7 linked regions of the Homo sapiens genome follow. The protein of the gene in region 1 purifies or fractionates together with the protein of each later gene. This does not show direct contact. Each region holds a gene or a part of one and is shown in the gene's direction. Other genes may lie near its edges.

Region 1 (2,536 bases):
GAGCCTAGAACAGAATTCCAGCCAAGTTTTCCCCACCTGGTGGCCTTTTCTAGCTCGCAGCTCCTCAGACAATATGCGCTAAGTGGCCATCCCACACAGATCTTCCCAAGCTCATCTGCAGGAGGTGACTTCCAACTAGAAGCTCCAAGATGCTCTAGTGAAAAAGGAGAAAGTGGAGAGACAGAAGGCCCCGACAGCTCATTAAGAAAGAGGCCAAGCAGAATTTCTAGGACATTCTTCAGCCCACATCAAGGTGACCCAGTAGAATGGGTAGAAGGGAACAGAGAAGGAGGAACAGACCTTCGCCTGGCCCAAAGGATGAGTCTTGGGGGGTCAGACACAATGTTGAAGGGAGCAGACACTTCAGAATCTGGAGCAGTCATACGTGGAAACTATAGACTGGGACTTAGCAAAAAGTCAAGCCTGTTCAGCCACCAGAAGCATCATGTGTGCCCTGAATGCGGGAGAGGCTTTTGCCAGAGATCAGACCTTATCAAGCACCAGAGGACACACACCGGGGAGAAGCCATACCTGTGTCCTGAGTGTGGGCGTCGGTTTAGCCAGAAGGCCTCCCTCTCCATACACCAGAGGAAGCACTCGGGGGAGAAGCCGTATGTGTGCAGGGAATGTGGGCGACACTTCAGGTATACATCCTCTCTCACTAATCACAAGAGGATTCACTCCGGGGAGAGGCCCTTTGTATGTCAGGAGTGTGGGCGAGGCTTTCGCCAGAAGATAGCCCTCCTTCTACACCAGAGGACGCACTTGGAGGAGAAGCCCTTCGTGTGTCCTGAGTGTGGGAGAGGCTTTTGCCAGAAGGCATCACTCCTCCAGCACCAGAGCTCACACACAGGGGAGAGGCCCTTCCTGTGCCTTGAGTGTGGGCGTAGCTTCAGGCAGCAGTCACTCCTCCTTAGTCACCAGGTCACACACTCAGGAGAGAAGCCTTATGTCTGTGCTGAGTGTGGGCACAGCTTTCGCCAAAAGGTCACTCTCATCAGGCACCAGAGGACACACACAGGGGAGAAGCCTTACCTGTGCCCCCAGTGTGGGCGGGGTTTTAGCCAGAAGGTCACCCTCATTGGACACCAGAGGACACACACAGGGGAGAAGCCCTACCTGTGCCCTGATTGTGGGCGTGGCTTTGGTCAGAAGGTCACCCTCATCAGACACCAGAGGACACACACAGGGGAGAAGCCTTATCTGTGCCCCAAGTGTGGGCGTGCATTTGGCTTTAAGTCGCTCCTCACCCGACACCAGAGGACACACTCAGAGGAGGAGCTTTACGTAGACAGGGTGTGTGGACAAGGACTTGGCCAGAAGTCACACCTTATCTCTGACCAAAGGACACACTCAGGAGAGAAGCCCTGCATTTGCGATGAATGTGGGCGCGGCTTTGGCTTTAAGTCTGCCCTCATCCGACATCAGCGGACCCATTCTGGGGAGAAGCCGTATGTCTGCAGGGAGTGTGGGCGTGGCTTTAGCCAGAAGTCTCACTTGCATAGACACAGGAGGACCAAGTCTGGTCATCAGCTCCTACCCCAAGAGGTCTTCTGACCTTTCCTTTCCCCGTGAGTGTGAAGCTGGCAGAAATCACTAGTAAATGCTTCAGTTTCCTGAAATGGAATGGAAAAAAAAAAATGTTGCTTTCTTTCATCGATCATGAGATAGTTGATTTTTGGTTTACTTTCTATATTCACAATTTGTCTTGGCTTGCTAGGGGTTCCATAACAAAGTACCCCAGGCTGGGTGATTTTGACAACGGAAATATATTTTCATATTTATGGAGGCTGGAAGTCCCAGATGAACGTATTGGTAGGTTTGGCTGCTGCTTAAGCCTCTCTGTTTGGCTTGCGGATGGCTGCTTTCTGGCCACGTCCTCACGTGGGCTTTTTTCTGTGTGTATGCTTTCCTGGTGTGGCTTCCTCCTCTTCTAGGGACACCAGTCATTTTGGATAGAGCCACAGCCACATGGCCTCGTTTAACCTTAATAACCTTCCTAAAGGCCTTATCTCTAGATACAGTCACACTACACAGTTAGGACTTCAACATATGAATTTCTGGGAAACCCAATTTAGTCTATAACACTCCACTACCAAAGTTCAGGTCCCTCAGACATTCAAAATACATTCACATGATCCCAACAGTCCCAAAATTCTTTACCCATTTCAACTTCACCTCTAGATCCAAAATCTCATTTAAATATCATCTAAATCAAGTGTGAATGAGACTTTAGGTACAATTCATCCTTAGGCAAAATTCTCCAGGTGTGATCCTGTGAAACCAGACAGATATCTGCTTCCACAATATTCTACAATGGTGGGACAAGCAGAGGCTGGACTTCCCCATTCCAAAGGAAAGACATGAGAAAGAAATGAAGAATGATGGATCCCAAGCAAGTCTCAAACCTGGCAAGGCAACTTCCATTAGATTTTAAGTCTCGAGAATAATCCCCTTTGGCTCAGTGCTCTGCCTTCTGGGCCAACTGGATTGGCAGCCCTGCTTTTTAGGCTCACGGGAGCTGCAGTGTCGCTCC
Region 2 (3,520 bases), on another chromosome or scaffold:
TAGTTCCCTTCTATTGACAATTTTTTATCAGGATTGTTTTTGAATAAGTAGTGAACTGAAGTCTGTACCTCCATCCTAGAGACTCGTGCAAAGAAGTCTTAATTCTTCTTTCTCATGAAAACTCATCAGTGGAGAACACTTGTCAGAGTGGTCTGCATGTCTTCTCACCACCTCCCCCATCCTTGTATCTTTTCACCTCTAGGAAAATATCCCTGGATCCTTTATCCATTCCTCTTGACCATCCTGGTTGCTCTCATGGGAACATTATCCAGTTTCTCTACCTATATCTCAAAGTGTGGTTGTTTATGTTAGGAGGAAGGAGAAGAGGGAGGGGGTCGAGGTCAAGAGGTGACCCATGACCACATGCCTGGGTCTGAAGTGGGGCGTATGAAGCTTCCTTGCTCAGGTCACAATGCTCATATCACCTTTAACATAACTTTGTTACTTGTGTGTACACTCTCTTTATTTCCTCAGGGCTTAGTTTCAGGAAGGGACTATTATCATCCTTGCTTTAAAATTAAACTATAAACAAAATTCCTTCCATAGTTAGCTTGGCCTACGTGCAGAGATAGGCAGAGGCCGTTAACCTACAAGATGTCACCATGGGCAGGGGGCAGGGTGCGGGGAGCAGAATGGAGCCACTCATGTTCAGCCTCCTTTTGTCTGTTATAATTTCCCCATTTTCAAAGCCAGTGATGTTGCATGTCTCTCACCTGTCTTCTGTATTCTCTCTGTCTCTCACCACAACCAGAAAAGGGTCTCTGCTTTTAAGGACCCATGTCATTAGACAGAGCCCACCTGGATAATCCAGGCTGAACTCTCCTACCTATGGGTCCTTAATCTAATCACACCTGCAAAGTTGCTTTGTTACATAAGGTAACATATTACAGGTTCCAGGGATTAGGATGTGGACGTCTTTGACTTGGAGGAGCAAGATTGATTTTAGACCCTCATCACTGGTGGGATTGGATTTCTGATGTAGCCCTTCCTTGTCCAGGACTGGGCAGGCAGGTGTGAATCTGTATAAGGAAGGCCTCAAGTTACTGTTCCTGGGCTCAACCAGCTACATAGCAGATTTGTACCACCCAGGTACACAGCCTGCATAGCAGATTTGCTGTCTACAGCCATTCTCACCTTTTCTCTTTTCAGGAGCATTTGCAATTATACGGTCATTGCTTTCTTTTTGGAGCCTCCCGTGCAGTTTTAATCTACTTTCAGAACTGGAGAGCACATCACATTTTGGTCAATAGCCTAGACATACAGTTGCATAACCCTTAACTTACCAGTGCTCATTATTTGCATTATTTCATTTTCTGTTCAAGTACTTTGAAAAGCCAAACAACTTTAAATACTACATAAAGTATGCATGCCTCTTAATATTGTTGGGATTCATCTCATTGTTATTTCTGTTACTCAAACCAGAAATCAGCTCCTCTTTCTAGATTGCAAACTAATAATAGTAGCAGAATAATTAATAGTACTATAGAGTAATAGCTACAGTTTGTTGATGCCGGCCAGGAGCCAGGCAGTGTTCCAGGTGTGTGATCTCATTAGATCCTTGCAGACATGATAGTGATGGAATTGTTACTTCCATTTTTTATAGGGCAACTGAACTCAGGTGATATTAAGCTGTTTGCTCAAGCTCATGCAGATCTAGGATTTAAACTCTAGTTTGTTTGACTCCAAAGTGCTCACTCTTCCCGAATGCAGATTCCAGTTGTTAATGTTAGATGAGATGGCACCTTAGTGCCGGTATAGATTCCACCACTGGTCATTCCAGAGGTGTGTTTTGAAGCAGAAGCCAATTAGTACTTTGCCTAAATGGGAATAAACTTGGGCCCAGCCTTTAGTACCATACGGCCCCTCCCCGTGGACTTAAGAAGCCTCTCTGTGTTTCAGCCACACACAGCACCTTGACTTGCATGAGCAGGGAGTTCCAGTGCGAGGACGGGGAGGCCTGCATTGTGCTCTCGGAGCGCTGCGACGGCTTCCTGGACTGCTCGGACGAGAGCGATGAAAAGGCCTGCAGTGGTGAGTGCCGGTCCACGGGCTGGGCTGGGCTGGGCTGGGCTGGGAGGCTCGCTTACCCCAGGGCCCCTCCTGTGTAGACCTTGAGCTAGGACCCTTTTGAACTGTTGCTCAATCTAAGGATAAAACAGATTTGTGCCTAGTTTTGGAGCCCCAAGTGAGGTGAGCCTTGGCCAGACTCTGATACAACATGCAGCTGTCTCCTCCCTGTTAGTGAAATGCTAGTCTTGGATTTTTTTTTTTTTATGGACTTCCCACCTCATGCCCATACACCATGGCTCTCACAGTCTCAATCTGCTGGTGGGATTAACTCAGTTCTTATCTCTGGAGTGTCTAGTAATGGACCCTATGACATGGTCCTTGGACTTGTAGCATTCTCTATGGAGAAATAGGCTTAAATTGTCATAGGCAGGAGGAAGATGAAATTCGAGGGAAAATATCACGACCGGAAAAGTAGGAGACCCTAGGAGGGATTGTATAGGGAGGTTTCAACTACATTTTCTGAGATTTCTTTTCAGATAATGATTATGGCCTCCTGATAATCTAGATCATGGTAGTTCTGTTTAAAAGCAGGAGTCCTTTGAAATCTAAGGATTTGTAAGATGTAACTTTTTTTTTTTTGTATTTTTAGTAGAGACGGGGTTTAGCCACATTGCCCAGGCCAGTCTCGAACTCCTGAGCTCAGGCAATTTGCCCGCCTCGGCCTCCCAAAGTGCTAGGATTACAGGCGTGAGCCACCACGCCCAGCCAAGATGTAACTTTGTTTGTCTTTTTCTCCTTTATCTCTCTAGATGAGTTGACTGTGTACAAAGTACAGAATCTTCAGTGGACAGCTGACTTCTCTGGGGATGTGACTTTGACCTGGATGAGGCCCAAAAAAATGCCCTCTGCTTCTTGTGTATATAATGTCTACTACAGGTAGGTCCCATCTTTGTCATGGGAGATGAAAATGATGTCTTCATTGCCCCAGGATGTTCTGTAAACTCTCTAGTGGCATGCACCATGCTATTAACGGAGTCAGACATCTCAGCCCCCCATGCTGCTCCAGTGTGACAATATCTTTATTTTTTTTTGGGCCAGGGTGGTTGGAGAGAGCATATGGAAGACTCTGGAGACCCACAGCAATAAGACAAACACTGTATTAAAAGTCTTGAAACCAGATACCACGTATCAGGTTAAAGTACAGGTTCAGTGTCTCAGCAAGGCACACAACACCAATGACTTTGTGACCCTGAGGACCCCAGAGGGATGTAAGTGTTTCAGTTAATTTTTATGGCATGGGTAAGACCTCAGGTCGGGGTTTGTGAGGGTCTTTCTGAGTATTCTCAGGAATGTGGGAACATATGTGTGCCTCACATGTACAGAAGTATGGTGGCTAAGCTTTATAGTCTTGCCAGAGTTGTCAAACATCTGTTCTTCTTACTGCATCAGAGACTGTTCTTGTACCTTAAGTTAATTTAAGATTCTCTCCACCATTGCCCTCTTGCATTTT
Region 3 (3,520 bases), on another chromosome or scaffold:
CTGATGTCTGATAGTTGGATAAAAACTTCAGTAGATGTAACTTCAAATTAAGAATTAAGAAGGAATTATATTTATCTAAAAGCATGGATTTCTGTATAGTCCTATGAATATCGAATTTTTTGAATGAATGAGTGAAATACATGGATTATGTACATTCTGTTTTTCTACATTTTATTTTATGACATGTTGTTTTATTTTGGCATACTATATGTGTTCTTTCTGCATGACATTTTCTTTCACATAGTCCCCCATTACATTTTGTTTTATAAGATTACTAAAATAAGAATTTCTGCTTTTGCATAAAACCGTATTTTAAGATGACTTCACAAGATAACATAAAATTCAAACTAGATTAGTTACATTTAGCAGTCTAAGTAGAAAAAATAGAAAGTTATGATGCATTCATGTCTATATTCATAAATTAAATATGTATTTACCACAAAATTTCTAATTACCTGGTGCTAAAGGAGTAATAGTGAATGAAAATAGAGGAGTGATCACTGTCCTTGTTGAGCTTACAGTCTAGTGGGGGCAAAAAATATTTATAATAAATGATAATGTAAGGAAATACAAGTGGAAATTTGCCATTCTAATCTGTGTTGTGAAGCAGAGCACATGGTACAGGGAAGACACAGAAGGCTTCTGGAAAGAAATAGTTGAGATATGAAAAGTAGGAAGTAATTAGGCAAACAGATTGGAGAAGAGCATTTGAGACAGGAAATAGCAGGCACAAAAGGTATTTTGGTAGGATGTTGAGTGCATCCTATGATTTGTATGACTGGTTAACTATTTTTTTACGATAAAAATTATTTTATCGGAACCATAAGCACACTGTATATTAACTTCCGAAATGTATTATTTTTATTCTAGTGTGAATGCTACTGCTGTTATTAGTAATGTCTTTTTGCATAGCTCTGCATACTACAAATAAATGTACATAAACACTACAAATTAACAATTTAATTTCAGCCTCTTGTTCTGGACTGAATGGGGACAAATGCCCTGTATTGGAAAGGCTCGCTTGGATGGCTCAGAGAAGGTTGTCCTTGTAAGCATGGGAATAGCATGGCCGAATGGCATCTCCATCGACTATGAGGTCTGTTGGATTTCTTTTCAGTATTTAAAGTGCCTTAACTGACAACTTTAATTTACCTACTTTTAGTGTTCCTTTATTTTCTTAATAAAACAATCAAATATAGTCTGTAACGTTACTTCTTAATCGATATTTAGGAAAATAAATTGTACTGGTGTGATGCTCGCACAGACAAGATAGAGAGAATCGACCTTGAGACTGGAGGGAATCGCGAGATGGTGCTGTCAGGAAGCAATGTGGATATGTTTTCAGTTGCAGTCTTTGGGGCTTACATCTACTGGTCTGACAGGTAATTTATTTTTTCATAAGTATTTGAGTCTCAAAATGTTATTTCAGTGCCAGTTGCTTTACCCTTGTAGGATTTACCATTTCTTAGCAAGGTCACAAAAAGGAACTCACAAAGCCAGTAATTTCCACAGAAAAGGCAGGTACTCTTGCTATTCCAAGCTGAAGCATTTCAATGTCACAGACTAAAGTTGGTTTCTTTCCCTTCTGTTGGTCCATCTGTTATCTTCAGCTTAAGTAACTGGCTTGACTTTAATTAGTCGAAGATTGTTGATCATGTATGTTCAACTTTTTGGCAGAGCACATGCAAACGGGTCTGTCAGAAGGGGCCACAAGAATGATGCCACAGAAACGATAACCATGAGAACCGGCCTTGGAGTCAACCTGAAGGAGGTTAAAATATTTAACCGAGTAAGAGAGAAAGGTCAGCACTCTTGAAAGAATACATAATATGTATATTTTATGTGATTTCTCTCCAATTTTTAAAAACATTGTCAAACTTAGAAATTCTTCTATAAGTCTAAAACCTCAAAACATTATCTTTACATCTAATTTCCTGCAAGTATCATATAGTAGCCTAATACAATAAATATGTCATATTTCATACAAAAGCGTATTTGCCCAGGACAGCACAGGTACATGGACATGTTACATACCTGGCATGTCTTGATTATAGGTTTTGGCTAAGGAATATAGAAAAACTTGAAACATGTATTGATTGGATAAAAAATTAAAAGCATAAGTAGGATATTAATAAAAGGCAGTTGAAATTTTTATACATAATATGAATCATATTATATAATAAGTGGTTATGATCCCAAAGGTGATGCTGTTAATGTAAAATATTTCCAAAGTCATTACTTCCTTAAAATATTTATTCTAAACTTACAGGACAATGATTTGGGTATTTAAAATTTGTTTACCTCCATTAAAATAAATTGTAACTAACTTTTTTGTATCAAAGGAAGTTATAATAATGTTGGAGATAATAATAATGAATTCACAAAGGAGAATTAGACTGGTGAAGAAATTTTAAGTGCATTTTTTATCTTCACTTAAAATTGGAGTAAGAACTTATGCTCAGCATATTTAGGAGGTTAGGCACATTGTAGCTATAGATTTCTTTGATGCTTTCCATATCTCAAAGATAGAGTTTAAAGCAGTGCATTATTTCTGGTGAGATCAATTCATGTTTTAAATGAACAATATATGAAACACTATAAGTATCAAGTTTCAAAAAAGATTTATATACTTAACTGGTTCATTAAGGGAAAAATTTAATGCTTAACTTGGATGGTGAATGAAACAGACTATGATTTTCCAAATAAAGAAACCCAAGATTTAAACTGCTGTGATTTTTTAAAAAACAATACTTTTTTAATTTTTTATTGACCAGCTTAAAATTAAGAGCAAAAAGAGAATATTCAACATCAAAGTTTTAATATTTCTTTATGGAGAATTTTGTTTCAAAAACAAAAGAAAAACATAAACATGTGCATGTGTGTATCATTTTTCTTCATTAGGGACCAATGTTTGTGCCAGGGACAATGGTGGCTGTAAGCAACTCTGTCTTTATCGAGGAAATTCCCGGAGAACTTGTGCTTGTGCCCATGGATATTTGGCAGAAGATGGAGTTACTTGCCTGAGGCATGAAGGCTATTTACTGTATTCAGGAAGAACAATATTAAAAAGTATACATCTTTCTGATGAAACCAATTTAAATTCCCCAATAAGGCCATATGAGAATCCACGTTATTTCAAGAATGTCATAGCCTTGGCTTTTGACTATAATCAAAGAAGAAAAGGTACCAACCGAATCTTTTACAGTGATGCACACTTTGGAAATATACAGCTTATTAAAGACAACTGGGAAGACAGACAAGTAATTGTTGAAAGTAAGTACAGTAATTCAATTTTAAATAGGTGGAAATGAGTATCATTTAGATTACTAGAGAAATAATAGTGGTAATTGCATGTAGCAATTACATTTTCCTAGATTTTATATTCAGGAATGAATGTGACTATATCATCTAACCCTCACCCCCCACCCCCCCGCCAAATGTCAAAGAAGCAATTAATTGCTAGCATGTACAGCAAATTATGATTATTACCTTCTAATCATGGAAGGTTTAATATGTTTTA
Region 4 (3,520 bases), on another chromosome or scaffold:
AATATATTAATAAATAAATAAGAAGTATAGGCATTCTCATACATAACCTCAGTAAATACCATTAAGAAAATAATTTTAGACATGGTGCAGTTGCTCATGCCTATAATCCCAGCACTTTGGGAGGCTGAGGTGGGAGGATGGCTTGAGCCTAGGAGTTTGAGACCAGCCTGGGCAATATAGTGGCAACTCTTCTCTACAAAAACCTTTAAAAATTAGCCAAGTGTGGTAGTATGCACCTGTTGTTGCAGCAACTCGGGAGCCTGAGATGAGAAGATTGCTTGAGCCAGGGAGGCCGAGGTTGCAGTGAGCCCAGATAGTTCCACTGCACTCTGGGGGACAGAGTAAGACCCTGTCTCAAAAAAAAAAAAAAAAAAAAGAAAGAGAGGAAATAATTTTTTAATATGATCTAACACCCAGCCTACTTACAAATTTCCCACAATAGTTCCAAGACTATTTTTATAACCTTTTTTTTCTTTTTACAGGATCCAATCAAGGTTCACGTATTGCATTTGGTTATTATTTCTCTTTAGTCTGTAAAAATCAAAAGCAGTTCTTTCGAAGGTTTTTTTTTATGACATTGACTTTTTAAAAGACTAGGCCAGTTGCCATGTGCAATGTCCAGCATTCTGGATTTATCTGGTTCTTTCCTTATGGTGTGGTTTAATTCCTCCATCGGTACTTTTTCAGTTATAACATACTTCAGAGTATTCCTTTCCTTTATATTTTTTATAAACTGGAAGTTAGATCTAAAGTCTTGACTAGATTCATTCAAGTCAAACATTTTTGGCACAAACACTTCATAGGTAATGTTGTGTGATTCATATAGTGCCATGCCAGAAAGCACATGCCACTTTGCCCCGTCTGCTGATGACGCTGGATTTGGTCACTTAGTTAAGATAACCACTGGATCTCTTCCTTATGAAGGTATGTCAGGAAGTAATCCATTCATTGGTGCTTTGGCACCATGGGTACTATCTCATCCCCCAAAACTTTTCACCTAATAGTTTTAGCATCTATTGATGATCCTTGTGCTATTATAATGGCAGTCGCAAAATGATTTTCTAATTCTGTTATCCCTCTTCTACTTATTTGCTGATTAATCTTACAGAAGGTTATTCTTCTGTAATCCCCAGACAATTTTAGGTATCTAGTACATATGCAATAATTTTTAGACAGTTTCAGGAGGTTTAGAGACCATCAAACCCCAGCATGGAGCCTGGGTGATGAGGTGTCCTGTTTTGCATGGAAGAAGAGCTGTAGCTGAGCTCTTCATAGTCCTTTTATTGTTCTTATTTTGCAAGTAAATTGCAAAATAAGTTCCCAACCCAAAGATAACACAGGCTATCCTTCAACAAAGAAAAACCTCAGCTTTTAAACTTCTAGGCCATTTGGCAAAGAGGCATGATAAAGGGCTTGAAAGCCCACAGACACGCCCAGTACCACTCCTTTTTCCTCTTTCCAAACACTTGCAGTATGTTACAACTGAAAAACTGCTGAGCCAGGCTTATTTCCTCAACAGTAAAGCCAAGGAGTTGGACCAGGCAATTCCTAGCATTTCTTTCTTTTTTTTTTTTTGAGATGGAGTCTCACTCTGTCACCCAGGCTGGAGTGCAATGGCACGATCTCGGCTCACTGCAACCTCTGCCTCCCGGGTTGAGGTGATTGATTCTCCTGCCTCAGCCTCCTGAGTAGCTGGGACTACAGGTGCATGCTACCACACCTGGATAATTTTTGTATTTTTAGTAGAGATGGGGTTTCACCGTGTTAGCCAGGATGGTCTCAATCTCCTGACATTGTGATTCACCTGCCTCGGCCTCCCAAAGTGTTGGGATTACAGGTGTGAGCCACCGTGCCCGGCCAATTCCTAGCATTTCTACCAGCATTACTAACATGTAGGAACTTGATATTACTTTCACTTGACAGTTAAATTCCTTGAATCCTTCATTTGAGCTTTGAAGGTGCTTGATTTTCCCCTCATTATGTCTCTTAAAGTCACACATACCTAGATCCATTAGTGCTTCCAGTTGGAATTTATTATCAGCACTATAAGAATCTCTTATATTTATGTAGTCCTTTTACGTTATAAAACACTTTTTATGTATTATTGTACTAGACCCTCAATGAGTGGACGTTATATCCCTGTTTTGTTTACTCTTGGGTCTTATAGACTGGGGGTTTTATTTCTGTCCCATTAATGTCACTACTGACAGAGGCCACTGAACTCTGTTGTGATGGACTTTCACCATACATAATCATTAATAGTATTGATTTGCCTGTAATTCAGGTTGCTTCATTCCAGCCTCGCAGTCACCTCTGTGCCCTGCTGGTTGTCTTCCCAGCGCTGCTGTAGTTGCCTTCCATGGATCTATAGGAGAGCAAGTCCTCCAGGTACTGCCCTGTGACGATGTTGTTGAACTCTGTAGCACGTGTGTCACTGTGGCTGGTTCTGCTCACTTCCTCTTTTGCTGCCACTTTTGAATTTAACTCTTTGTTTGTGGTTTGGACACTCACTGGATTTGGAAACCAGGGGTTGTGGGTTCTCTCCTAGATTTCCGTCTGTGTACCAGGCTTGTGCTTAGCACTTTTCCCATAATTCTTTCACATGACCTGCTTAGAAACCCTTAAAGGTAAGTATCACTCTTCCCATTTTACAGATGGATACACTGAGGCTCAGTACTTAAGTGACTTCTGTATTGTCACACAGAGTCAGGGGCAGGAGGCTGCTCTTGGGTTAGATGTGCTGAGGCTCATAACCTCAGCCTGGAACTGGGTCAGGACTACAAAGGTAAACAGAAGCAGAGTCCTTTCTGTGTGTCCCCGCTCCCTGTACAAGCCAAGGCCTCACAGCACATAGCAGCCACAGCCACCTGAGGATTCCTGCCATCTAGACGAGGCAGTTACAGCCAAGAACAAGTCCACTGAGGCTAAGCTGTGCTCCTCTGGAGGGCTGTGTTTAGAGTCCAGCCTTCTAGGGGAAGCAAATTAAACCCAAACTATAGAACAGCCCAGGGAAATACTCACAAAGGGAAATGCTGACAGTCAGACTCCTGAAGCTTCCTGATGCTTCTCGAGTTTTGGTAAAGAACCTCAGTGCTGTTTGTTTGTTTGTTTTTTAATGTTTTCTGGTTTTTTGTTTGTTTTGAGACAGTCTCTTATTCTGTTGCCCAGTCTGGAGTGTAGTAGTACAATCATGGCTCACTGTAGCCTCCACCTCCCAGATTCAAGTAATCCTTCTGCCACAGCCTCCTCAGTAGCTGAGACTACAGATGCATGCTACTACACTGGGGTATTTTAAAAAATTTTTAAATTTTTTTAGTTGAGACAGGGTCTCACTATGTTGCTGAGGCTGGTTTCAAACTCCTCGGTTCAAGTGATCCTCCTGCCTCAGCCACCCAAAGTGTTGGATTTACAGGGTGAGCCATGTCACATTGCCCTCTCTTAGTTCTTGAAACCTGAAACCTTGAGGAGCAAACAAAAGGGGTCTCTTGGCCAGGTGCAGTGGCTCACGCCTGTAATCCCA
Region 5 (3,520 bases), on another chromosome or scaffold:
TTGCGGCACTATTCACAATAGCAAAGACTTGGAACCAACCCAAATGTCCAACAATGATAGACTGGATTAAGAAAATGTGGCACATATACACCATGGAATACTATGCAGCCATAAAAAAATGATGAGTTCATGTCCTTTGCAGGGACATGGATGAAATTGGAAATCATCATTCTCAGTAAACTATTGCAAGGACAAAAAACCAAACACCACATGTTCTCACTCATAGGTAGGAATTGAACAATGAGAACACATGGACACAGGAAGGGGAACATCACACTCTGGGGACTGTTGTGGGATGGGGGGAGGGGAGAGGGATAGCGTTAGGAGATATACCTAATGCTAAATGACGAGTTAATGGGTGCAGCACACCAGCATGGCACATGTATACATATGTAACTAACCTGCACATTGTGCACATGTACCCTAAAACTTAAAGTATAATAATAATTTTAAAAAAAAGAAAAATAAAAGATATGCGAGCCCTTATTTCTGCAGTTAGCATGTTGAGCCAAATTAATAAATCTTCTCAATGTTCAGTCAAGCAATTTTTTCTTTTTATCACTTTAATATAAGGACCATGGAATAAAGTCTTAAGCTAAGCCAAAAGATGGTTAAAGATAGGACGTATTTTTACCCACAAATAAGGTGAATACCGACAGTGTAAGGTGCTCTTCCTCAGGCCATGCCGTTTGCTGTCGTGTTTTCTGCTTGCTGGTTTCTGGTGCGTGTGTATTTGCCTCCTTAAGGGAGTAGCCTTTTGCTCTTTATCCCATGTGTCAAATATCAAAACTCACTGACATTGACCAATCATTATCAAAAGTGGATGTTTAAAATAGATCAGGAGGTAGCATACCACTTACAGGTATTTTTGGTTTTAATGTATTGAAATGCTAGTAGCTTAAACTGCATTGTAAGCAAGGCTTTGAGTAGGGGACACATTCTAACAACTTTCTTAGCAGGTCCTTTAAACTTGCTTTTTGGACTCCTGTCACTTGAATACCGTAATAAAAAAAGATAACTACTTGCATATACTATTTTATTTAAGGACAATGGCCTAGAAGATCACAGTTTAATTTATTTTCTTTTCTTTCCATCTATATTTTCTGTTAGATATTAAGGCTAAGACATACTGCATTTGTAATACCAAAGAAAAACGTTCCTACCTCAAAACGTGAAACTTACACAGAGGATTTTATTAAAAAGCAGATTGAAGAGTTCAACATAGGAAAGAGACATTTAGCCAACATGATGGGAGAAGATCCAGAAACTTTCACTCAAGAAGATATTGACGTAAGTACAGTTACTCTGTTGAAAAAGTAATTGCTGTAGAGTTTTAGATATTAAAAGCACTTTTCTTCATGAGCCCCTTAGCTCTGTGTTTTAATCAAGCTGTCAGAATAAGGAAAAATGCTGCTATACATTGTTTAAGTTGGAGCCATGGTTTCAAAGACAAATGTGCAGGATTTACTTAGTATGGTGAGTTTTAGGTGTTACCTAGAAATGAGTCTATAAATGCTCATACACTATTGGGAAATGTTTAACCTGTTGTGTAGTCTTAGACTCAGCTTTCTTACAAAATGATATAACAGATGGTAATGAAAATAGAGTCAAATTTATATCAAGTCCCATAAGTAAACCTTGGCCCAGTGTTTTTGTCAACTTAAATATATATCTGAGGTTTCAAAATGGGGGCGTAGTCTAAGTGATTTGAAAATTAGGATCAGAATTCTATTCACTCTTGAATTATTATATTCCTGATAAAAGCAGTAATTGTCGATAATATTTTTGCTAGACATCCTAGAGTAGCTAGCAAAGGAAGTTGAATTTAACAACTTTGAATCTTGTCCTTATTTTTAAAAAGTAACATCTAATATCCCATGATGTTTTATATTTAATCGAAGAACAACATCTTTGTATAGATAATAACATTCTTATACGATTTTAATATTATTTTTAGTCATTTTATGCACTTTAGTTTAATTTCAATCTTTCTGTATACTTTTCCTATTTATAAATGGTACTGTAGTATCACTTTCAGACCAACATTTTTTATTCAACCAGAAGGATTTTTTTCTTTTCTTTTCTTTTCTTTTTTTTGAGACAGAGTCTTGCTCTGTTGCCCAGGCTAGAGTGCAGTGGCACGATCTTGGCTCACAGCAACCTCTGCCTACTGGCTTCAAGCAGTTCTCCTGCCTCAGCCTCCTGAGTAGCTGGGCTTACAGGCACGCACCACCATACCCAGATAATTTTTGTATTTTTAGTACAGATGGGGTTTTACCATGTTGGTCAGGCTGGTCTTGAACTCCTGACCTCTGGCGATCCACCCATCTCAGCCTCCCAAATTGCTGGGATTACAGGCGTTAGCCACCCGGCCCGGTCCAGAAGGATTTCTTATTGCTCTTCTATGTTAGGTGATTTGTAATTAGGGACTTTGTAGCTGCTGTCCTCTTTTTGAGTTTTATGGTAATCTGGACAGTATTGGGGGATATTTTCCATAAAGAGATGCTATTCTTCAGTTAAGTATAAAATACCATGAGATGTTAGATATTACATTTTAAAAATTAGAACAAGATTCAAAGTTGTTAAATTTAAGCTCCTTTGCTAGCTATCCTGGGGCATTTAGCAAAAAAAATTATTGACCATTATTGCTTTTGTCAGGAATGTAATAATTGAAGAGTGCAACAGGAATAGAATTCAGGTCCTAATTTTCAAATCACCTAGAACATAGACTCTCTAGACTCTAAGTTTGCCTACCCCGGACTTTCATATAAGTAGAGTCATACAGTATTTGGTCTTTAGTGACTGACTTGTTTCACTTAGCACAATGTTTTCATGTTTATCTACATTGTGGCATGTGTCAGTACTTCCTTTTTATTACTGAATAGTTTTCGATTGTATGGATATACCACATTTTAAGAATTCAGTCATCAGTTGATGGGCATTTGGATTTCCATTTTTAGTTCTGATGAATAATACTGCTAAGAATGTGCATGCTATAAAGTTCTTGTGTAGACATATGTTTTTATTTCTCTTATGTGTATACCTTAGAAACCATTGCTAATCCAAGGTCATGAAAATTCACCCTTATATTTTCTTCTTCTAGTTTTGTAGTTTTAGCTCTTACATTTAGGTCTTTGATCCATTTTAACGTAATTTTTGTGTGTGATGTGAGGCAGGGATGTAGCTTTGTTCTTTTACATATGGACATTCAGTTGTTCCGGCATCATTTGTTGGAAAGACTATTTTTTCCCATTGAATTATTTTATCACTTATATTGAATATCAGTGTAACTATGAGGGCTTATTTCTGGACCTTATTTTATTCCATTGATCTATACATTTATCCTTATGCCAGTACCACTTTGTCTTGATTACTGTAGCTTTATAGTAAGTTTTGAAATTGGGAAGTGTAAGTAGTCTTCTTTCCTTCTTGCTTTTAAAGACTATTTTGGTTGTTCTTTGCTCCTCGAATTTTCATATGAAATTTTAGGATCAGCTTGTCAGTTCCTGCAAGGAGCCAC
Region 6 (3,520 bases), on another chromosome or scaffold:
TGATCTCGGCTCACTGCAACCTCTGCCTCCCGGGTTCAAGTGATTCTCCTGGCTCAGCCTCCCTAGTAGCTGGGACTATAGGCGTGCACCACCACGCCCATCTAATTTTTGTACTTTTAGTAGAGATGAGGATTTACCATGTTGGCCAGGCTGGTCTTGAACTCCTGACCTCAGGTGATCTGCCCACTTTGGCCTCCCAAAGTATTGGGATTACAGGCCTGAGCCATTGTGCCCCGGCCTACTGTCTTGATTACTATAACTTTATATGAAGTCTTGAAATTGGGTAATGTGACTTCTTCAACTGTTATTCTGTTTCATAATTGTTTTGGTTATTCTAGGTTCTTTGTATTTCCATATAAATCATAAAAGCAACTTGTCAATATCTACAAAAAGGACTACTGGTATTTTAGTTGGGATTGCATTAAATCTGTAGGTCAGTTTGAGGAAAATTGCCGTTTAATAACGTTGAGTCTCATGTTGTTTTAAAAAATAGAGGCGAGGTCTCACTATGTTGTCCAGGCTGGTCTCGTAGTCCTGGGCTCAAGCAACCCTTGAGCCTCAGACTCCCAAAGTGTTGGGATTACAGGCATTAGCCACCACGCCTGGCGCTAGTCTCCTGATTCTTGAATCCTGTATATCTCTGCATTTATTTAGATCTTTACTTTCTCTCAGCATATTTTGTCATGTAGCTGGGACTACAGGCGCCTGCCACCACGCCTGGCTAATTTTTGTAATTTTAGTAGAGATGGGGTTTCACCATATTGTTCAGGCTGGTCTCTACTCCTGACCTCGGGTGATTCACCTGCCTCAGCCTCACAAAGTGCTGGGATTACAGGCGTGAGCCACTGCGCCTGGCCAACACCTGGAACATTTAATTGAACATTTGTTGTTATTGTCTTAAACACTGGATGCCCCAAAAACCCTGTGGTTAAAAATGAATGGTGAAAAAATATGAATGGTGAAACCTGTTTGGTAACATCTTTATTTTCAGGTTGCTGGAGGAGCCAGTATGAGTCAGATTTCAGAAGCACTGAGCCGATACAGGAACAGATCATGTTTTGTGAAGGAAGCCCTCCACAGGCTGTTCACAGAGACATTTTCAATGGAGGTAACCATGCCTGCTATTTTAAAGGTAATTGAAGGAAGACAATTTTTACTATTACTTCTTAACTTGGTTCAATTAATAATTGTTCACGAACCACACTGAATATAATAAATTATATGCTTTATTCTATAGTGAGTCAAGTGCTCTCATAGAGCAAAGAATGTTAAGCTTAGCTGCCAAAGTGTCTTTTGCTTTGAGCATCTGGATTTATGTGGAATAAATTAGAATCAAAACAGTTAAAATTTGGTCTAAGTAAGGGAATAATAGGATCATGTGGCTTTCTGAAAGAAAACAAGTGCAGAACAAAATAAAAATAATTAAGGGTGGCCAAATCTACCACTTGAAGTATTTTGTGAATGACATAAAGTTGCTTTTATCGATATAGCCAAACTTAGCTTTGGTTTAGGGAAGGATGCGTTTTATTGTAAATGTAATTACAAGTATTAAGAGGCTTGGGAAAGAAAACTTCAGTTATTTATTTTTCTTTTATACATGTGTTTATTTGAAAATTGTTGTTTTTAGTGAAACATAACAATGAAAGGTCTTAAGAAAAACCTTGTCTTTATTTGTAATTTTTTGCAATTCCTTAAAAATGTGGATATTTTCCCAGCACTTTGGGAGGCCGAAGCGGGTGGATCACGAGGTCAAGAGATTGAGACCATCCTGGCCAACATGGTGAAACCCCGTCTCCACTAAAAACAATACAAAAATTTGGTGGGCGTGGTGGCGCACTCCTATAGTCCCAGCTACTTGGGAGACTGAGGCAGGAGAATCGCTGGAACTCGGGAGGTGGAGGTTGCAGTGAGCCGAGATTGTGCCATTGCACTCCCTCCTGGTGACAGAGCGAGACTCAAAAAAAAATATTTTTACAGCATGGGAGATTAACTTTATTTACAGCTCAAAAGCTGTATAAAGAAAAACTCTGGGTCAGCTGTGGTGGCTCATGCCTGTAATCCCACCACTTTGGTTGGGAGGCCGAGATGGGAGGATTTCCTGGGGCCAGGAGTTCAAGACTAGCCTGATCAACATTAGTAAGACCCTGTCTCTACAAAAATTTAGAAAAAGAAAAAAAATTAGCTTCTGGCTGGGCACCATGGCTCACGCCTGTAATCCCAGCACTTTTTGGGAGGCTGAGGTGGACAGATCACCTGAGGTCAGGAATTTGAACAGCCTGGCCAACATGGTAGAACCCCGTCTCTACTAAAAATACAAAAATTAGCCAGGCGTGGTGGCAGGTGCCTGTAATCCCAGCTACTCAGGAGGCTGAGGCAGGAGAATCACTTGAACCTGGGAGGTGGAGGTTGCAGTGAGCCGAGATGATACCACTGCACTCCAGCCTGGGCGACAGAGCAAGACTCTGTCTCAAAAAACAAAAAAAAAGTTAGGTGGGCATGGTTGTACATGCCTATAGTCCCAGCTACTTGGGTGACTGAGATTGGAGGACTACGTGAGCCCAGGATTTTTTTTTGGTTTTTTTTTTTTTTTGAGACGGCGTCTCGCTCTGTCGCCTAGGCTGGAGTGCGGTGGCTTGATCTCCGCTCACTGCAGGCTCCACCTCCCGGGTTCACACCATTCTCCTGCCTCAGCCTCCCAAGTAGCTGGGACTACAGGCGCCCGTCACCACGCCCAGCTACTTTTTTGTATTTTTTAGTAGAGATGGGGTTTCACCGTGTTAGCCAGGATGGTCTCGATTTCCTGACCTCGTGATCCGCCCGCATTGGCCTCCCAAAGTGCTGGGATTACAGGCGTGAGCCACTGCGCCCGGCAAGCCCAGGAGTTTGAGGCTGCTACAGTAAGCTATGATGGTGCCACTATACTCCAGCCTGGGTAACAGAGCGAGATCCCAACTCAAAAAAATAAAATAAATTAAAAATTCTCGACCTTTTTTTCCATCTGTAAGGAAGAGATTGAATTAGATGTTCTTCTGTTTTTGTTTGTTTTTGTTGTTCTTTGAGACAGGGTCTCACTCTGTTGCCCAGGCTGGAGTGCAGTGGCATGATATGATCTCAGCCAACTGCAGCCTTGACCTCCTGGGCTCAAGTGATCCTCCTGCCTCAGCCTCCTGAGTAGCTGGAACTATAGGCATGCCCCACCATGCCTGGCTGTTTTTTTTGTTTTTTCTGTAAAGATGAGGTCTTACTGTGTTGCCTAGGCTGAATTTAGATGTTCTAAATTTCTTTTCATACCAGGATTGTGTAGTTTTTGTGAAAATCACATTTCTTTTGGTTTCTGGATTTCTAAATTGCAGATGATGGCAATCTAATGAAACTGAAAAATCAATTTAGCAATATACAAAAAAAAAGTCATTTTCCATAGCAGAAGTATATCCCAGGTCTGTCTCTAGTAGAGGAAACAGATCACAGTGTCCTTGAATGACAGAGCAGGTGGGGTCTAAGCTTGGAACAATGCCCTCAT
Region 7 (3,520 bases), on another chromosome or scaffold:
TATAAATATATAATAAACAATATAATAAATATATAAATATGTTATTAAAATATATTTATTGCAGATTTTAAAAATCAGGTTAAGGAAGTGCCTTTCTATTCCTAGTTTGCTAATTCTTAATTTTGACTCATGAATGGATGTTTTAATCAAATGCTATTTCTTCATTGAGGTAATCATGTTTTTTTCCCTCAAATCTGATGGTGGAAAAATTATACTGGATGATTTTGTAGTGTAAAAACACCCTTGCATTCCTGGGATAGACCCAAATTGATCATTATGTATTGTTCTCTTTATACATTTCTGATTTTTTAATATTTTATTTAGGATTTTTGTATTAATGCTCTTGAGTGAGATTGACATGTAATTTATTGAATTCTGTGTGCCAGGTAGGTAAAGAATCTAACCAAGTCAAGGATAAGACATACAAGGTACTTATCCCATGAAGCCTTTAGGTCATGATGGAAATAAACACGATGATGAGATGGAAAACAGCTTGCAGCATATAGGGGGCTACTTAAGAAAGAGTGGCATAGGAGGGGGGCCGGGGGCGCCCTCTGAGGAAGTGAAGTTTATACCTGAAGTATGAAAAGGGGTGGCTAGGCAGAGAGAAGGTGAGAGATCCTTCTGGGCTGAAGGAGCAGCAGGTGCCTAGCCCTGAGGTTGGAGAGACGTTGGAATGTTTGAGTTACACGAAGCTGGCTGCCATGTTGAGAGGCCGGTGGTTTGAGATGTAGCTGGAGAGATGAGCCCAGCATGCTGGGATTGCACATGAGGCAGGGATTTGCAAATTGTTCCTAGGATACTGGGAAGCCATGGAAGGGTTTTACTATTATAATTAGTAGAGAAAGATAATGAGTTCTTGTTTAAAATCTAAACACTTGAACAAAACCCCGTAATCCTTCATATTTGTATTCTCTGAATGGTTGGTCCTTGTCCCCACTCCATTTAAAGGTTCACTGGCTACTTCATTGTTAAGATTTTTATCCTAAAGTTCAAGTAATCATATTCATTGGCTGTCTTTCTGTATTTTAATTAAATATCTAGTACCTGGATTATTAGGGTATGTTGTCAGATGGTAGAGTGTAATTTGAATGAAGTGTAGGTAATCTTTTATCTCTGGAGAGGGAAATATTCCTAAAATGTGGCAGATGTTGGAAGAGTAGATACTAATGAAGTCTTGGTGTACAGACTTAAATTATCCCTATATCCCAACAAAAGCTTTTTAAACAATTCGCCTTTTTATTTTGAGATAATTGTAGATTTCCATGCACTTGTAAGAAATAATAGAGATTTTTCGTGTACTTTTTACCCAGTTTCCCTCAATGATAACACTTTGAGGAACTATAATATGTAATAACCTGGGTATTGACATTGATATAGTCAAGATACAGATCAGTTCTGTCACCTTAAGGATCCTTGATGTTGCCTTGAAATTTTTCTCTTGTCCTAACATTTTGTGATGTTATATTTACATTTCACATTTAAGTGTGATCCATTTTGAGTTATTTCTGTAAGGCGTGAAGTTTAGGTCAAGGTGTATTTATTTGTTTTGCCTGTGGATATCCATTTGCTCCAGCATCATTTTTTGAAAATGCCTTTTTTTTTCCTCTGTTGCATTGCGTTTGTCAAAAATTATTTGGGCATATTTGTGTGGGTCTGTTACTGGGTTCTATTCTCTTCATCTATGTATCTTTCTGCCATTCTCACACTGCCTTGATGATTGTAGCTGTATTGTAGGTTTTAGTATCAATCAGGTAGAGTGATTACTCCCACTTTATTCTTTTTCAAGATCATTTTTAGCTATTCTAGGGCCTCTGCCATCCCATATACATTTTAGAATAAGCTTGTCTAGGTCTACAAAAAACCTTGTTGGGATTTTAATTGGAGTTTCAGTAAGCCTGTAAGTCAGTTTAGGGAGAATTTACTTCTTGACTATGTTGAGTTTTTCAATCCATGAACATGAAGTGTCTCTTTTTTTAGGTCTTTGATTTCTTTCCTCAGCATTTTGTAATTTTCAGCATACAGATTTTGTAAACTTTTTAAATATACACCTAATTATTTAGGTTTTTTGGAGTGATTGTAAATGGTGCTATGTCTTTAAATTTGGTTTCCACATGTTCTTTTGTTTTTTTTTTTGTTTTTGTATGTTTATCTTATATTCTGTGACCTTGCTCAGTTCACTATTTTTGGAGTTTTTTTTTTTTTTAATTGGTTCCTTAAGATTGTCTACTTAGCCATATCATCTACAAATCAGGACAGTTTTATTTTTCCGAGCTGTATAGCTTTTATTTCTTTTCCTTGTCTTATTGAACAGGCTAGAACTTATAGGACTTTGTTGGAAAAGAGTGGTGAGAGCAGACATCCTTGCCTTGTTCTTGATTTTAGGAGGAAAGTGTTCAATCTTTTACCATTAGGAATGATGTTAAGGTAACCCTATATCCCAACTTATGGGATAGATTTTTTATAGATGCTCTTTATCAGGTTGAGGTTGTTTCCCTCTATTCCTAACATGCTGAGTGTTTTAACCATGAATCGTTGTTGGATTTTGTCACATGCATTTTCTGCATCTATTGATACCATGAGTTTTCTTTAGCCTTTTGATACACTGGATTACAGTAATTGATTTTTAAATGTTGAATTAGCCTTGCAAACCTGGAATAAATACCACTTGGTCATGGTGTATAATTCTTCTTATACACTGAATTTAGTTCTTTAAATTTTCCTCCGTACTGTTTTAGTAGCATCCTACTTATTTTGATTTGTTGCAATTTCATTTTCATTCACTTTTTTTAATTTGTAAATTTTCTTGGAGACTTCCTCTTTGACCTGCAGATTATTTAGAAGTGTATTACTTAATTTTCACGTGTTCAGAGATTTTCTTACTGTTAGTGGTTTCTAATTTGATTCCATTGTGGTCACAAAACATACTCTGCATGGTTTTCATTTCTCTTAAATTGTTGAGGTTTGTTTTATGGCCAAGGATATGGCTTCAGTGAATGTTCCGTAAGTACTTGAGAAAAATACATATTCTGTATTGTTGGGTGGGCTGTTCTCTATATAAATTAGGTCATGTTCGTTGACGGCGTTATTGAGTTCTTCTATAACCCTGTTCTGCCTAGTTTAAAAAAAAATTAAACAATTTCCTTTCTTTTTAAAAACTTAAAAATTTTTTAATTTGCTTTTGTCTAATTTTCTTTTTCTTTTATTCATCTTCTTTTTGACCAGGTTCAACATATTCAAGTGTCTAGTAGTTTTATCAGTTGCTGAAAAGGGAGATGTTGAAGTTGCCAAATGTAATTGCTGCTGTGTCTCTTTGAGCTCTGTAATAGTTTTTGCTTCATGAATTTTCAAGCGCTCTTTGGTTCCTACACATTTAGGATTGTTATGTCTTCCTGGTAGATTGATCTATTTATTATTATGTGTCATTATATAATCCTTTTTATCTCTAGTAATTTTCTTTGCTCTGAAGTGTACGTTATGTGATATTAATATGTCCGCTTCAACTTTTTAATTAATGCTT

What was found.
Region 2: the proteins of ZNF169 (region 1) and SORL1 purify together in Homo sapiens (affinity purification with mass spectrometry; 2 studies listed by BioGRID and IntAct, with this or other methods). This does not show direct contact.
Region 3: the proteins of ZNF169 (region 1) and LRP1B purify together in Homo sapiens (affinity purification with mass spectrometry; 2 studies listed by BioGRID and IntAct, with this or other methods). This does not show direct contact.
Region 4: the proteins of ZNF169 (region 1) and TRIM26 purify together in Homo sapiens (affinity purification with mass spectrometry; 2 studies listed by BioGRID and IntAct, with this or other methods). This does not show direct contact.
Region 5: the proteins of ZNF169 (region 1) and MRPS9 purify together in Homo sapiens (affinity purification with mass spectrometry; 2 studies listed by BioGRID and IntAct, with this or other methods). This does not show direct contact.
Region 6: the proteins of ZNF169 (region 1) and ZYG11A purify together in Homo sapiens (affinity purification with mass spectrometry; 2 studies listed by BioGRID and IntAct, with this or other methods). This does not show direct contact.
Region 7: the proteins of ZNF169 (region 1) and SART3 purify together in Homo sapiens (affinity purification with mass spectrometry; 2 studies listed by BioGRID and IntAct, with this or other methods). This does not show direct contact.

The regions. Positions count from the first base shown.
Region 1 is NC_000009.12:94,299,814-94,302,349, forward strand, and holds the end of ZNF169 (zinc finger protein 169), read left to right. Parts: coding exon of another isoform or gene 1-1; coding exon 2-1,557; 3' UTR 1,558-2,016; downstream 2,017-2,536. UniProt on the Homo sapiens protein: May be involved in transcriptional regulation.
Region 2 is NC_000011.10:121,602,294-121,605,813, forward strand, and holds part of SORL1 (sortilin-related receptor preproprotein), read left to right. Parts: intron 1-1,899; coding exon 1,900-2,031; intron 2,032-2,819; coding exon 2,820-2,946; intron 2,947-3,108; coding exon 3,109-3,278; intron 3,279-3,520. UniProt on the Homo sapiens protein: Sorting receptor that directs several proteins to their correct location within the cell. Along with AP-1 complex, involved Golgi apparatus - endosome sorting.
Region 3 is NC_000002.12:140,700,003-140,703,522, reverse strand, and holds part of LRP1B (low-density lipoprotein receptor-related protein 1B precursor), read left to right. Parts: intron 1-969; coding exon 970-1,096; intron 1,097-1,230; coding exon 1,231-1,382; intron 1,383-1,677; coding exon 1,678-1,802; intron 1,803-2,901; coding exon 2,902-3,273; intron 3,274-3,520. UniProt on the Homo sapiens protein: Potential cell surface proteins that bind and internalize ligands in the process of receptor-mediated endocytosis.
Region 4 is NC_000006.12:30,199,903-30,203,422, reverse strand, and holds part of TRIM26 (tripartite motif-containing protein 26), read left to right. Parts: intron 1-2,284; 5' UTR 2,285-2,388; intron 2,389-3,520.
Region 5 is NC_000002.12:105,048,061-105,051,580, forward strand, and holds part of MRPS9 (small ribosomal subunit protein uS9m), read left to right. Parts: intron 1-1,110; coding exon 1,111-1,290; intron 1,291-3,520.
Region 6 is NC_000001.11:52,859,740-52,863,259, forward strand, and holds part of ZYG11A (protein zyg-11 homolog A), read left to right. Parts: intron 1-991; coding exon 992-1,132; intron 1,133-3,520. UniProt on the Homo sapiens protein: Probably acts as a target recruitment subunit in an E3 ubiquitin ligase complex ZYGA-CUL2-elongin BC.
Region 7 is NC_000012.12:108,551,159-108,554,678, reverse strand, and holds part of SART3 (spliceosome associated factor 3, U4/U6 recycling protein), read left to right. Parts: intron 1-3,520. UniProt on the Homo sapiens protein: U6 snRNP-binding protein that functions as a recycling factor of the splicing machinery. Promotes the initial reassembly of U4 and U6 snRNPs following their ejection from the spliceosome during its maturation.